2 separate regions of the Homo sapiens genome follow, and region 1 is linked to region 2. Evidence: fine-mapped expression QTL. Tissue or cell type: adrenal gland. Region 2 holds a variant in brackets; the other region holds the start of a gene. All regions are shown on one strand. Distances are between the middles of the regions.

Evidence for each region. PIP is the estimated chance that this variant, and not a neighbour inherited with it, causes the effect.
Region 1: it holds the start of NUBP1, and the variant in region 2 is fine-mapped to the expression of NUBP1 in adrenal gland (GTEx, PIP above 0.99).

The regions. Positions count from the first base shown.
Region 1 is chr16:10,741,552-10,747,859 of GRCh38, forward strand. NUBP1 (NUBP iron-sulfur cluster assembly factor 1, cytosolic) reads left to right here and starts at 2,291. Exons shown (of 11, transcript NM_002484.4): 1 at 2,291-2,331; 2 at 2,410-2,514; 3 at 5,592-5,725. The coding sequence starts at 2,313. RefSeq lists an enhancer at 2,100-2,149.
Region 2 is chr16:10,825,558-10,833,443 of GRCh38, forward strand. No RefSeq gene overlaps it. Among named protein-coding and RNA genes, the nearest start is that of TVP23A, 11 kb to the left of the region's middle. RefSeq lists a silencer at 3,389-3,458. The variant A/G (reference allele first, on the strand shown) is at 4,148.

The DNA.
Region 1 (6,308 bases), 85 kb before region 2:
CAGGCCTACATGGTAAAACCCCGTCTCTACCAAAAATACAAAAAATTAGCCAGGCGTGGTGGTGGGCACCTGTAGTCCCAGCTACTCAGGAGGCTGACACAGGAGAATTGCTTGAACCCGGGAGGTGGAGGTTGCAGTAAGCCAAGATCACACCACTGCACTCCAGCATGAGCAACAGAGTGAGATTCCATCCCACAAAAATAAAAATAAAAAGGAGAATAACTTGCATCCTGCCCTCTAATATACAGTATAGTGATTAATAGCAAAGGCCCTGTATCAGACTTGGTTAAAAACCCAGTTCTGCTCTTTCTGCCTCTCAGACTGTGGACAAGTAAATCTTTGCAGCCATCTTATCACCTGTAAAACGGAAATGACAACAGTCCCTACCTGATAGGTGACTTCCTCTCTGCTCTCCAGGCCTTTGCTGATGCCCCATCACTCTGGTCCTCTTCTCCCGACCAGACTGTGCTCCAGATGGCAGGGTCCAGGTTAGTCTGGAATCATTGGCATCTAGCCCAGTGCTGGCTGGGACCATGTGTTACTAAGTGCAGGCTCTGCAGCCAGACAGACCAAGTTTATCACCCTGGTTCCCCTGCTACCAGTCATGCGACCTCGGGAAAGTAGTTTACTTTAAGCCTCAGTTTCCTTATCCAAAAATGGAGACAGTAGGACTATGAAAGGACATAAATTAGGTAATTCACATGAAAGCACAAAGATGACAGCTGCCAAACGGTAAGTATTCTACAAAATGCTGGCTATAATTAGTGGTAGTGACAGGCAGCTGATACACTGCTGTTTAATAAATGTTTCCGAGGCCGGGTGCGGTGGCTCATGCCTGTAATCCCAACACTTTGGGAGGCCAAGGCGGGCAGATCACGAGGTCAGGAGATCGAGACCATTCTGGCTAACATGGTGAAACCCTGTCTCTACTAAAAATACAAAAAATTAGCCGGGCGTGGTGGCCTGTAGTCTCAGCTACTCGGGTGGCTGAGGCAGGAGAATGACGTGAACCCAGAAGGCGGAGCTTGCAGTGAGCCGAGATCCCACCACTGCACTCCAGCCTGGGTGACAGAGCGAGAATCCGCCTCAAAAATAAATAAATAAATAAACGTTTCCATATTCTTAGTGTCTGGGGCTAGGTAAAGTTTGTTCACTCATTAATATTCCAGGTGCCAAACCTGTGAGCAATGACACTCCAGTAGCAATGAGCATTTGTGGCATCCACATCTTGGTTTCTGAACTGTTGTCTGCTAAAAAGTAACCAAGGCTCCCTGAAGAAATGACTGCAGCAGGGAGAAGGGATGACTGAAACATCTTGTATCAGAAAGCAAGAAAATGCTCAAAGAAGCTGGATTAGTGCCCAAAGAACATAAGAACTGTCTTGAAGGGGCTTCACTGGCCACATCTGGGGGAAAAAAAATCGACCAGAAAGAATAATAATTGATTATAAAAGACAATTTTAAAAAATCCAGGAATCCATAGTGAGTCTTCGAAAAAAAAGAAAAAAAGAGAGGGTATAAAACTGATATATATTTATCATATATATAATCTATAGTTTTATATATATATATATAAATGCTGCTAAAATCACTGAGTGAAAGGCTGATAGAGAAGAAGATGGTCCCAGAGAGTACCTGTTAATTACAAATGGAAGAAGGAAACATTAAATGGAGAAATGGGGCAGACACCACCTTTAGCAAGCGATCAAGCTTCACATTACCAAAAACGGGACAAACTGACATTATCCAAGTGTGTTCTGCAGGAAAAAAGAAAAATTAACCTTTATCTAATTACAAGGCAAGAGGGAGGGGAGGATTAGACAAATCAAGAATATGGGATATTCTATTACACAACTGGTCTGGACCCGTCAAAATTATCAAGGTGATGAGACCCCCCCTAAAAAAAGAAGGACTGATCTGAATTAAAGGAGACCGAAGAGAAATAACTCCAGGCAGTGAGTGAATCCAGCAGGGGAGGGGGTCTAACAACTGAAATTGAAATATAAACTGTCTATTGGCTAATACTGCATTGGCTAGTACTGCATCGATATTAAATCTCTTGGGTATGAAAATGGCACTGATGTCATGAAGAATGGCTTTGTTCTTAGGAGATGCACTGCAGAAGTATTTATGATAGGAAATCTCTGAAAAGGAACAGACGTTGAGTCCCAGTCTTTCGGCCCAAGGTTCGCGCGTGCGCACAGCCCCCTTTCCGAGACTTATTTCGCGCGGTCGGAGAATCAGATTGTGCCCACAAGGCGGAAATGTACGACAGCGGGTTCCGGTGACCACGAAGGCGGCAAAGGCGACGGAATGGAGGAGGTGCCTCACGGTAAGCTCGCGGAGGGGGCGTGGGTCGCGGGGCGAAAGTGTCGGGAGCTGCTCTAACTGTGGTCTTGTCTCTGCGCAGACTGTCCAGGGGCCGACAGCGCCCAGGCGGGCAGAGGGGCTTCATGTCAGGGATGCCCCAACCAGCGGCTGTGCGCTTCTGGAGCGGGGGCCACTCCGGACACGGGTGAGAAAAGGGCAAGGCCTCAACAGGAACTTAGAGGCGCAGGCCCGGAAAAGGCGGGGCGTGGGAGGGAGGGGGCGGGATCTGCAGAATGACTGACAGCGGCAGGCTAGAAGGTATTGTATTCGGAGAGGGGTGGGGCCCAGAAGGGGCGGGGCGTGGAAAGTGGGCAGGGTGAGGGCGGAGCTTGGAATGACTGACAGGAACGAGGCCTTTAGAAGGCGAGCGCGAAGGACCTGGCGCGGATGGAGGGTGGAGACTGACCGGCGCGGAGTCGAAAGGGACATTAATTAAGAGGGTCGGGGCCAGAGGTTTGAGTGACAATAACAGACCGCAGAGAAAAACGGGATAAGCTTCGAAGTCGGGGAGTCTTCGGACTTACATCCTGGCTCTGCCAGCTACTTTCTTGACACAATTTTCTTCCTTTTGAGGAGTGATTCTCCCACTCATTCAGCAGAAATGTGTTGATCGCCTCGTAGGTTTGGTGCTGTCCTGGGGACACAGCTGGGGATCAGGCGTGGTCACTGCTCTAGTGGAGTTTAGCTTTACTGGGGAAACAAACACGTGAGCTAGCAACTAAACCACCGCAGCTTTAAGTGCTGTGAAGCACAGATTCCAGGATGAGAGGACCCAGGGAGCCTGCTCAGAAGGACCTTAAAAAGCAGGAGGCAGGAGGACAATATTTTTTTTTCTTTTTTTTCCCCCTTTTTTTTTAGACAGAGTCTTGCTGTGTAGCCCAGACCAGAGTGCAGTGGTGTGATCTCGGCTCACTGCAACTTTCACCTCTCAGGTTCAAGCGATTCTCGTGCCTCAGTCTCCCGAGTACCTGGGACTACAGGCGCCTGCCACCACGGCTGGCTAATTTTTATATTTTTAGTAGAACCAGAGTTTCACCATGTTGACCAGGTTGGTCTCGAACTCCTGACCTCAAGTGATGCATCTGCCTGGGCCTCCCAAAGTGCTGGGATTACAGGCATGAGCCACTGCACCTGGCCAAGGGGGAGAATCTTGAAGGAGTTCAGAGAGAGACTTGGATTTGATTCTTGGATCCATGCGGTGTGACCTTCAGCAATAGTCCTAACCTCTCTGAGCTTCTGGTTCCTCATCAAAAATGGAGACAGGCCGGGTGCAGTGGCTCACGCCTGTAATCCCAGCACTTTGGGAGGCCGAGGCGGGTGGATGGATCACTTGAGGTCAGGAGTTCGAGACCAGCCTGGCCAACATGGTGAAACCTGTCTCTACTAAAAATACAAAAATTAGCCAGCATGGTGGTGCATGCCCGCCCTCGAGGCTGAGGTGGGAGGATCACTTGAACCCGGGAGGTGGAGGTTGCAGTGAGCTGAGATCGTGCCACTGCACTCCAGCCTGGGTGACAGAGTGAGACCCTGTCTCAAAGAAAAAAAAAAATGAAGAGAAAAATAGTTATCTCTGTCAATGCAATGGAGAGACTGAACTGAGCCTCAGTGGAGGTTTATTGGGCCAGAGCTTGAGGGCGTGCCCTGGAAAATACAAGTGACAGAAACATCTGTGGCCTGTGCTCGATGGAGTGGTTCCAGAAGGCTGGTGTTTATATATTTCATTAAAAGGGGAAAAAGCATGCAGGAAAAAGTGCAGTAGGCCTCGTGGCAGGTAGTTACATTCTTGTGAGGTTTTAATTCGTGCCCAGTATATCTACACTATTCAGAAAATAAAGTAAACATTCAAAAGAGGGAATAAAGGAAGAATTAATTAGGCAGACGTCTCAGGGTAGGAGAGGAAGGACTATCTCATCCCATCTTTGTTTGGCATGTGGGAGGATAAGCTTGTAATGGACATGGTCAGTGTGGCGTTTAACAGACATCAGTAATAGGGAAGGAGTTAGACTGAGGTTACAGTCCTAAAGTTACAGTTGGCATGTCCTTGTTTATGGGAGGATACTCATCTTCAAAGATTTAGGGGCCAGCAAAGGAGTTCCTTAGGAGCAACTTGTGAGGGCAGTCATCCCACAATGGATTGCATGGGGCCTTTGGCCTTTTGCAGGTGTCTGGTTAATGTAGAATGCTTTGACACAAGGTTGGGAAGTAACAGCTGTCTGTTGATGGGGAGGAGGACAGCAGTGTTGGGAGGTTTCCAGGCTTAACTTTCACTTGAGTTTGGCCAGTCATGAGACTTTTTAATTTCCTTTATACCTCGTGTATTGTTTTAAGGATTTGAAATAAGATAGTTTCATTGGCAGATACTTAGTATGTGCCTGCTGTCTATCAGAGTTTCTCAACCTCAGCACTGCTGACATTTGGGGCAGGATCACTCTTTGTTGTGGGGGGCTGTCCTGTGCATTGTAGGACATTTAGCACAATCTGGGCTGTACCCATTAAATGCCAGCAGTACCTCTCCTGTGACAATGAAAAGTGTCTCCAGGCTGAGCATGGTGGCTCACACCTGTAATTCCAACACTTTGGGAGGCCAAGGTGGGTGGATCACTTGAGGTTGGAAGTTCGAGACTAGCCTGGCCAACATAGAGAAACACCGTCTCTATTAAAAATACAAAAATTAGCCAGGCATGGTGGCAGGCACCTGTAATCCCAGCTACTTGGGAGGCTAAGGCAGGAGAATCGCTTGAACCCAGGAGGCAGTGTTGCAGTGAGCCGAGATCACGCCACTGCACTCCATCCTGGGCGACAGAGCAACACTCTGTCTCAAAAAAAAAAGAAAGAAAGAACAGTGTCTCCAGACATTACCAAATGTCTCTGGGGGATTTTGTCCCCAAGTTGGTGACCATTGCTGTTTGCAAAGTTCTCTTCTGGAGCTGGGAATACAGCACTGAAAGCTTCAGACAGTTCCTACCTTTGTGGAGACTATGTTCTAGTTGGGGGAGACAAACGTGTAAACCAATAAATGAGACCCCTTCAAGTGTGATAATAGCCTTATTTTCTTCCTAGCACTTATTTCTACCATTGTCTGAGAGGTATTTCAGAGGATCGTTTTAAACAGCCCCAGGACTAGTACTAGGACTAGGACTTAGCTCTTTCTAGTTGACTGGAAGCGTGACATTCGAGGTTTGGTGTGGGACCTCATCCCCTGAACTTTGGTTTTCTTTGCAGCTATAGAGGAAATCAAAGAGAAAATGAAGACTGTAAAACACAAAATCTTGGTATTGTCTGGGAAAGGCGGTGTTGGGAAAAGCACATTCAGCGCCCACCTTGCCCATGGCCTAGCAGAGGATGAAAACACACAGGTGAGACCTCAGGAACCACTGGGAGATGCTCATTTTGTCTGAGGGTCGTGATGGCTACTAAATAACTGATTCCTAGGCCAGGCGCAGTGGTTCATGCCTGTAATCCCAGCACTTTGGGAGGCCAAGGCGGGCAGATCACTTGAGGCCAGGAGTTTGAGATCAGCCTGGCCAACATGGCAAAACCTTGTCTCTACTAAAAATACAAAATATTAGCTGGGCGTGGTAGCGCAGGCTTGTAATCCCAGCTTTTCGCGAGGATGAGCCATGAGAATCGCTTGAGCCCAGGAGGCAGAGGTTGCAGTGAGTCAAGATTGTACCAGTGTACTCCAGCCTGGGTGGCAGAATGAGACTGTCCAAGAAGAAAAAAAAATGATTCCTTATACTAAGTTGAATTGGCCTCTTTGGAATCTCAATCCGGCAGAGAGCAAAGAAATGCCCAGTAGTCAAATGAAGCATTTCACTGGATTCCCTAGCCAAGAAAATGGCTAGCAGATGTACATCTGTCCTTGCATGTGGATAGTTTATTACATTACGTTCACGCTTCTTTTTCCTCTTTATTAACCCCTTTTAGCTTTTCTCTAAG
Region 2 (7,886 bases):
TACGGTATGACTCCAGGCCAGGGGACATCCAGGCCCACGAGGTTGGGGGGCTCCCACCCTCCTGTTTGTATGGCTGCCCCTGTGACTGTCACACTGCTGCCTGTTTCACAGAGGCTCCTTTCAGGTGACCTAGTCCAGTCCTTCTTCAGGCTGGCAGCCAGTGCAGGTTACCCAGGAGGGCGGAGCAGAGGGCCAAGGGAAGAAGGAGGGTCCCCTCCCGTGGGCTGCCTTCAGGGCCCCATCCACCTTGTCAGGCGCAGGGAGTGGTACATGGAAATAGCCCTGGATTTCTACCCAGACAGACCTGGGTGCAAATCCTGACACCAGCTGTGCCCAGCACGCTGGTGTGGACATGGACGCAGCTCTTAGCAAGAGATATAAGCTGCTGATTGCTGACCCTCTTTAGGCCAACTTTCTAGTTACAGACAAATAAATACAGCCAAGTGAAAAAACAACAAACTAGAGCTTGTCAAAAGTGCACTAAATGCCCCCATGCAAAGCTGTGCTGTCTAATCCAGGAACCACAAGTCATTACTGAGCCCTTGAAATGGGGTAAGGCTGGATGGAGATGGGCTATCAGGGCAAAGTACACAGCAGAGATTGAAGACTTGTTAGGAATAAAAGGCCGGGCGTGGTGGCTCACGCCTGTAATCCCAGCACTTTAGGAGGCCGAGGCAGGTGGATCACCTGAGGTCAGGAGTTCGATACCAGCCTGACCAATATGATGAAACCCCATCTCTACTAAAAATACAAAAATTAGCCAGGTGTGGTGGCGGGCACGTGTAGTTCCACCTACTTGGGAAGCTGAGACAGGAGAATTGCTTGAACCCAGGAGGCAGAGGTTCCAGTGAGCCGAGATCGTGCCATTGTACTCCAGCATGGGCAACAGAGTGAGACTCTGTCTCAAAAAAAAAAAAAAGAAAAGAAAAAAGACTTGGTAGGAATAAAAGAATGTAAAATAATAATATTGAAATCATGTTTTAATTGTTTACATGCTGTAATGATAATCTTTTAGACATAGTGGATTAAAGAGAATGTATTATTATAATTAACAGCCTGGGCAACATAATGAGACTCTGTCTCTACACAAAAATAATAATTAAAAAAAAAAATTAGCCTGGCGTGGTGGTGCATGCCTGTAGTCCCAGCTATTCACGAGGCTGAGGTGGGAGGATCACTTGAGCTGGGGAGTTAGAGACAAGCCTGGACAACATAGCAAAACCCTGTTTCTATAAGAAATACAAAAATTAGCCCGGCATGGTGGTGTGCGCCTGTAGTCTCAGCTACTGAAGAGCTGAGGAGGGAGGATTATTTGAGCCCAGGAGGTCAAGGCTACAATGAGCCGTGATTGCACCACTGCACTTCAGTCTGGATGATAGCGAAAGCCTGTCAAAATTAAAATAAACGTCCAGGCACTGTGGCTCATGCCTGTAATCCCAGCACTTTGGGAGGCCGAGGTGGGCAGATCACTTGAGATCAGGAGTTCGAGACCAGCCTAGCCAACATGGTGAAACCCCGTCTCTACTAAAAAATACAAAAATTAGCCAGGTGTGGTGGTGCACACCTGTAATCCCAGCTACTCTGGAGGCTGAGGCAGGACAGTCGCTTGAACCCAGGAGGTGAAGGCGTCAGTGAGCCAAGATCACACCACTGCACTCCAGCCTGGGGGACAAAGCAAATAAATTTTACCTTTTTTTTTTTTTTGAGTTGGGGTCTCACTATGTTGCCCAGGCTGGTCTCAAAATCCTGGGCTCAAGTGATCCTCCCACCTCAGCCTCCTGTATAGTTGGGACCATAGGCACATGCCCACTCTGCCTAGCTTATTTTATTTTATTTATTTATTTATCTATTTTGAGACAGAGTCTTGCTCTGTCACCCAGGCTGGAGTGCAATGGCACCATCTCAGCTCACTGCAACATCCGCCTCCTGAGTTCAAGCAATTTCCTGCCTCAGCCTCCTGAGTAGCTGGGATTACAGGCGCCCGCCACCACGCCCAGCTAACTTTTGTATTTTTAATAGAGATGGGGTTTCGCCACATTAGCCAGGCTGGTCTGGAACTCCTGACCTCAAGTGATCCTCCTGTCTCGGGCTCCCAAAATGTTGGGATTACAGGCATAAGCCATCGCACCCGGCCTGCTAATTTTATTTTTTGTAGAGACAGGATGCCAGAAGCACAGAGAGGGGAAATTCCAGACCAGGGAACAAAAGGGACAGCCAAGTTTTGATGTGGCCCGCCTGGCCTCCCCAGCAACACACCCTGTCACCAGGGACGTGGAGAAGTCAGCAAACAGGCCAAAGAAGGCCTCTTGTCACTCAAGGGCCTGGACAAGAGACAGAAATGTCAGGTCAACAGGGCCTTCTCTGCGGCCAGCCGGGATGGGGGACAGTGGCTGTGACCCCAGTGGACAGGATGGGCCCTGGACCTCTGCCTCCTGTTGGAGCAGCCAGAGGTCGGCAGGCCCCTCCCATGGAGGCAGGGCTGGGGAGGTCATGACACTGGTCGCTCCCTTAGCAGCCGGGGGGTCTGAAGCTTGTCCCTACTAGAGAAAGTGACCTAGCCGGGCCCTGCTTGGTCAGGAACTGCGGATCTTTCCCACTTCTCCCTGCACCACTCATCATGCTCTGACCACAATGGCCAGACTCCAAGATTTTCAGAAACTTCCAAGCCTCTTCCTGGCTCAGGGCCTTCGCTCCTGCTGACTCCCTGGCCAGGAAAGCCCTTCTCCTCCTGATTTTCTCAGGGCTGAAAATATGAGGTCTCCCCGCAAGGGGCCTTCCCTGAAGCCCAGCTCATGTCCCACCCAGTTTCTCAGTCCCTCTTGAGGGTCTGGGATCTAGACTGTGGCCTGACATGTTTGTTCCCTTTCTAGCACTTTCTACGATCTCTAATTCTCTTGTTTTCTTATTGGTTTAGTAAGATTCCCCTCCCCATGCCTCCACTAGGGTACTGTCTCCATAAGGGCAGGCGTCTCTTAAGTTCATAGAGCATGGGGCCAGGTACACAGCTGGCATTCCACAAGCCAGCCAGAGAGTGGGTGAACAAAGGGATGAGCGACTCAGAACACACGCCTGGCAGCGAATCTCTGCAGAGTCCCCTGATGAGGACCTTACAATTCAGGGGACACAGAGACCTGGATTATTGCCTCCCGAGGGGTCTGGTCTCAATCTAGTTCTCTCTTTCACACACACACACACACACACACACACACACACACACACACACGCCACCTTTCAGCACAGGCCCACCTGTCCCCATCCCTCCCAAAACGCCCTGCCCTGCATGTCAACATGGAGGACGCATTTAAGCTATGAGGCGGGGAGCCCAGAGTAGCCGCTGCAGCATGCCTGGCCCTCCGCCGCAGGGAGGTTGGGTTGGGGCGGGCAGCGGGACTTAGATTACCCAGGACCCGATTTGGGAGCCCTGGGGGCCTCTTGCAGGAGGAGCCCAAGCAATGGCTGGCTGCCTGCCCTAGCAGGTCTGCGAGCCAGCAGGCAGGCTGCCACCACTTACGGGAAATGCTCCACTGAGGAGAAAGAGTGGTAGGTTGTTTAGCCCAGCCCTGGCCCCTGTCCAGACTGGGTCAGGAAGCTTTGCCCTGTGCCAGCGTCGCCCACGCAGGCTCAGTTCCTCCCCAGACGGCTTGTCCAGAGACCCACAAGGCAAGCCGGGGAGTCACTGCCCATCTCTCTCCTTCCTGTGTATCCAAAGCAACAACAACAAAAACCAAAACAGCAGTTTGTGGACTCAGACACTTTGCAGTCAGCGTGCTTTGAAGCTCAGCTCTGCCTCTTATCAGCCGGGAAATAAATAGCTTGGACAAGTTACTAAACCTCTCTGAACCTCAGTTTCCTTCAGTGTGAAATGAGAATCATGACCTGTTTTAAGGGCCGTGAAGGGGTGGCCTGCCCCTCCACACCTGTGGGTATTTCTAGTCGGATGGGACAAGAGACTGAGAAAAGAAATAAGACACAGAGACAAAGTATAGAGAAATAACAGTGGGCCCAGGGGACCCGCGCTCAGCATACCAAGGACCTGCACCGGGCACCGGCACCGGTCTCTGAGTTCCCTCAGTTTTTATCGATTATTATCTTCATTATTTCAGCAAAAAGGAATGCAGTAGGAGGGCAGGGTGATAATAAGGAGAAG[A/G]TCAGCAATAAACATGTGAGCAATAGAATCTATGTCATAATGAAGTTCAAGGGAAGGTACTATGACTGGACGTGCACGTAAGCCAGATTTATGTTTCTCTCCACCCAAACATCTCAGTGGAGTAAAGAATAACAAGGCAGCATTGCTGCAAACATGTCTCGCCTCCCACCATAGGGCGGTATTTCTCTCATCTCAGAAATGAACAAATGTACAATCAGGTTTTATACCGAGACATTCGGTTCCCAGGGGCAGGCAGGAGACAGTGGCCTTCCTCTATCTCAGCTGCTAGAGGCTTTCCTCTCTTACTAGTCCACCTCAGCACAGACCCTTTACGGGTGTCGGGCTGGGGGACAGTCAGGTCTTTCTCATCCCACGAGACCGTATTTCAGACTATCACATGGGGAGAAACCTTGGACAATACCCAGCTTTCAAGGGCAGAGGTCCCTGTGGCTTTCCATAGTGCATTGTGCCCCTGGTTTATTGAGACTAGAGAATGGCAACAACTTTTACCAAGTATACTGCTTGTAAACGTTTTGTTAACAAGGCAGGTCCTGCACAGCCCTAGATCCCTTAAACCTTGATTTCATACAACACATGTTTTTGTGAGCTCCAGGTTGGGTCAAAGTGGCTGGGGCAAAGTGGCTGGGGCAAAGCTACAAATTAACAACATCTCAGCAAAGCAATTGTTTAAAGTACAGGTCTTTTTCAAAATGGAGTCTCTTATGTCTTTCCTTTCTACATAGACACAGTAACAGTCTGATCTCTCTTTCTTTTCCCTACAGGGCTGTTGGATAGAATGCAGGAGCTAATTTGTTTTTTTTCTTTTTTCTTTTAGATGGGGGTCTCACTGTCACCCAGGCTGGAGTGCAGTGCTGCAATCATAGGTCTCTACAGCCTCCAATTCCTGGGCTCAGGCAATCCTCCTGCCTTAGCCTCCCTAGTAGCTGGGACTACAGGTGCACACCCCACACCCAGCTAATTTTTTATTTCTCATAGAGACAAGGTCTTGCTATGCAGCCCAGGGTGGTCTGGAATAGACTCAAGTGATCCTCCTGCCTCAGCCTCCCAAAGTGCTAGGAGTACAGGCATGAGCCCCTGGGTCTGGCTAGGAGTTAATGTTTTATCACATACTCAGCACATTGCATGCACATAGTAAGTGTTTGCTAAATAAATTATGTCAAGCCACCTTTATTTTCACTCCAGGAGGTAAAGTGCATGGCATGATACCCATTTTACAGATCAGGTGATTGAGGCTCAGAGAGGTTTTGAAGCAGGTGCATACAGCAAACCAGTGGTAGACCCATGAGTAGATATCAGGTCTCCACCTGCTCCCTGCTCATAGCTTTTCCCATCACACAAAACTGGGGTGCACAGTCCCTGCCAAACCTTTAACCCAAGGTTGCAAAGTGCCTGCCCAAGGGTCAACTCTGGGCTCCAGACATGTTTGGGTTGGACCTGCATAGTTAAAAAAAAAAATAGGCAGCGTTCATGGAGTTAATGGCCAGTATTGGAAAATTGGGGCCAAGTGTAGTAGCTCACGCCAGTAATTCCAGCACTTTGGGAGGCCAAGGCAGGAGGATCTCTTGAAGCCAGTTCAAGACCAGCCTGGGCAACAAAGCGAGACCTCATATCTATTTATAAAAAATAAAAATACTAACCAGGCGGGGCATGGTGGCCTGTGCCTGCAGTCCCTGCTACTTGGGAGGCTGTGGTGGGATCGCTTGAGCCCTGGAGTTCAAGCCTGCAGTGAGCTGTGATCACATCACTGCTCTCCAGCCTGGGTGATAGAGTGAGACCCTGTCTCTTAAAAAGAAAGGAAAGAAAAGAAAAGAAAAATCAGATGTCACTTTTTTTTTGAAGTCTGTACTTCTGTTTTTTCTTAAGGAAGCTCAGGTGACATGGAGCCTGAATTCCCTGTGGTGGGAGCTGAGCGGTGCTATCCCCCCTTAGATGGGGTTGCAGAGTCGAGCTCACCACCCCCAGACACCAGTGTGCTCACTTCATTCTCTGCCACTGGCGAGTTTGCCATTGCTCCTGAAAACCTACTGTTGTAACCTGGGCATGGTGGCTCATGCCTGTAATCCCAGCACTTTGGGAGGCCAAGACACACAGATTATCTGAGGTCAGGAGTTTGAGACCAGCCTGGCCAACATGGTAAAACCCTGTCTCTACTAAAAATATAAAAATTAGCTGGTTGTGGTGGCACATGCCTGTAATCCCAGCTACTGAGGAGGCTGAGGCAGCAGAATCACTTGAACTTGGGAGGCAGAGGTTGCAGTGAGCTGAGATTGTGCCATTGCCCTCCAGCTTGGGCGACAAAGCGAGACTCTGTTTCAAAAACAAACAACAACGACAAAAAAAAAAAACCCGCTGTCAGGTGGGATTCCCCAGAAGCAGACCATACCCTGCATGAGGGTGCATGAGCACCTTAGGGATTAGGCAGGGCTCTGGGGAGGGTCGGAGAGATGGGCTGAGAGGCAGGGAGGCCACACAGGGGTGTGACAGCAGACAAAGGCCCTCAAAGGTGTATCAAAAAGTACCAAAAACTGAGTGGCTTAAAAATCAGAAATTCATTGTCTCCCAGTTCTGGAGCCTGGAAGTCTGAGATTAATGTGTCTACAGAGCCCTGCTCCCTCTGCAGGCGCTAGGGAAGGATCTGTCCCCAGCATCTCTCCTAGTTTCTGGTATTTTCTAGGCTGTGGCTGCGTAATCCAATCTTCACATGATGTTCTCTCTGTATGCGTGTCTGTGTCCAAATTTCCCCTTTTTATAAGGACACCGGTCATATTGGATTAGGGATCCACCCTACTCCAGTGTGACCTCATCTTTCTAATGATGTCTGCAATGACTCTATCCCCAAGTAGGGTCACATGTTAAGGTACAGGAAGTTAGGACTTCAATATAGGAATTTTGAGATGAAGGACATAGTCAACCCTTAACAGAAGGTAACTGTGGCTCACCCCACAGGGGGTTCTCAGAGTCTCCAGTGGGAGGGGGGAGCTGGGGTATTTATACTCTCCTGTCCATCTTGCCCTTGCCCCATTGGCTCTAGGAAAACACACAGGCAAAGCAGGTTCCAACATCATGAGGAGTGTCTCTAGCTAAGAGGTGCAGGGGCTGCTGTTGGAAGTGAAAGCTCACCAGGACCTGGTGGGAATGAAGATGGTGACAGGATCCGAGGGACTGTGGGCTCCTGCCAACCACCATCATGGTGACACAGAGGAAAGAGTCTTTACTCCACCTCTGTCATCCACTACCTTGGTGGGAATTGACCAGTAGGGTGGCCCTAAATGAGTCACTGGCCTCTCTGCCTTACTTTCTCCACATACAGTCCACACCAGCTGGGACCAGAGCTGCTAGGAAAAAGAATGGATGATGCCCACTCACCCCCATCCATGTGCACCCCAACCCAGCTGGCGCTTGGGGAGTGTCAGCAGGTGGAGGTGGTAGAGCCCTCATACCTATCAGCATCAACTCACTTACAGAGGGACTGAGGAGCCCCTGGGAGAAACAGGACCCCCAAATCAGATAGCCCTCCCCATGAGTGAGCTCAGGATATTCAAACACAGGTCTTGAAATGCGGCACCTGGATTCTTGGCCAAGGTACCTCGAGGACTGGATTTTCATTTCTCAGCCTCACTTGGCCTTTATACCTCCGAGACGCTGCATTCACCATTCATAATTTTAGCTCAGTTCACTTGGAAAAACCCAACCACAAAGCAGAGAACTTGAGAAAGGC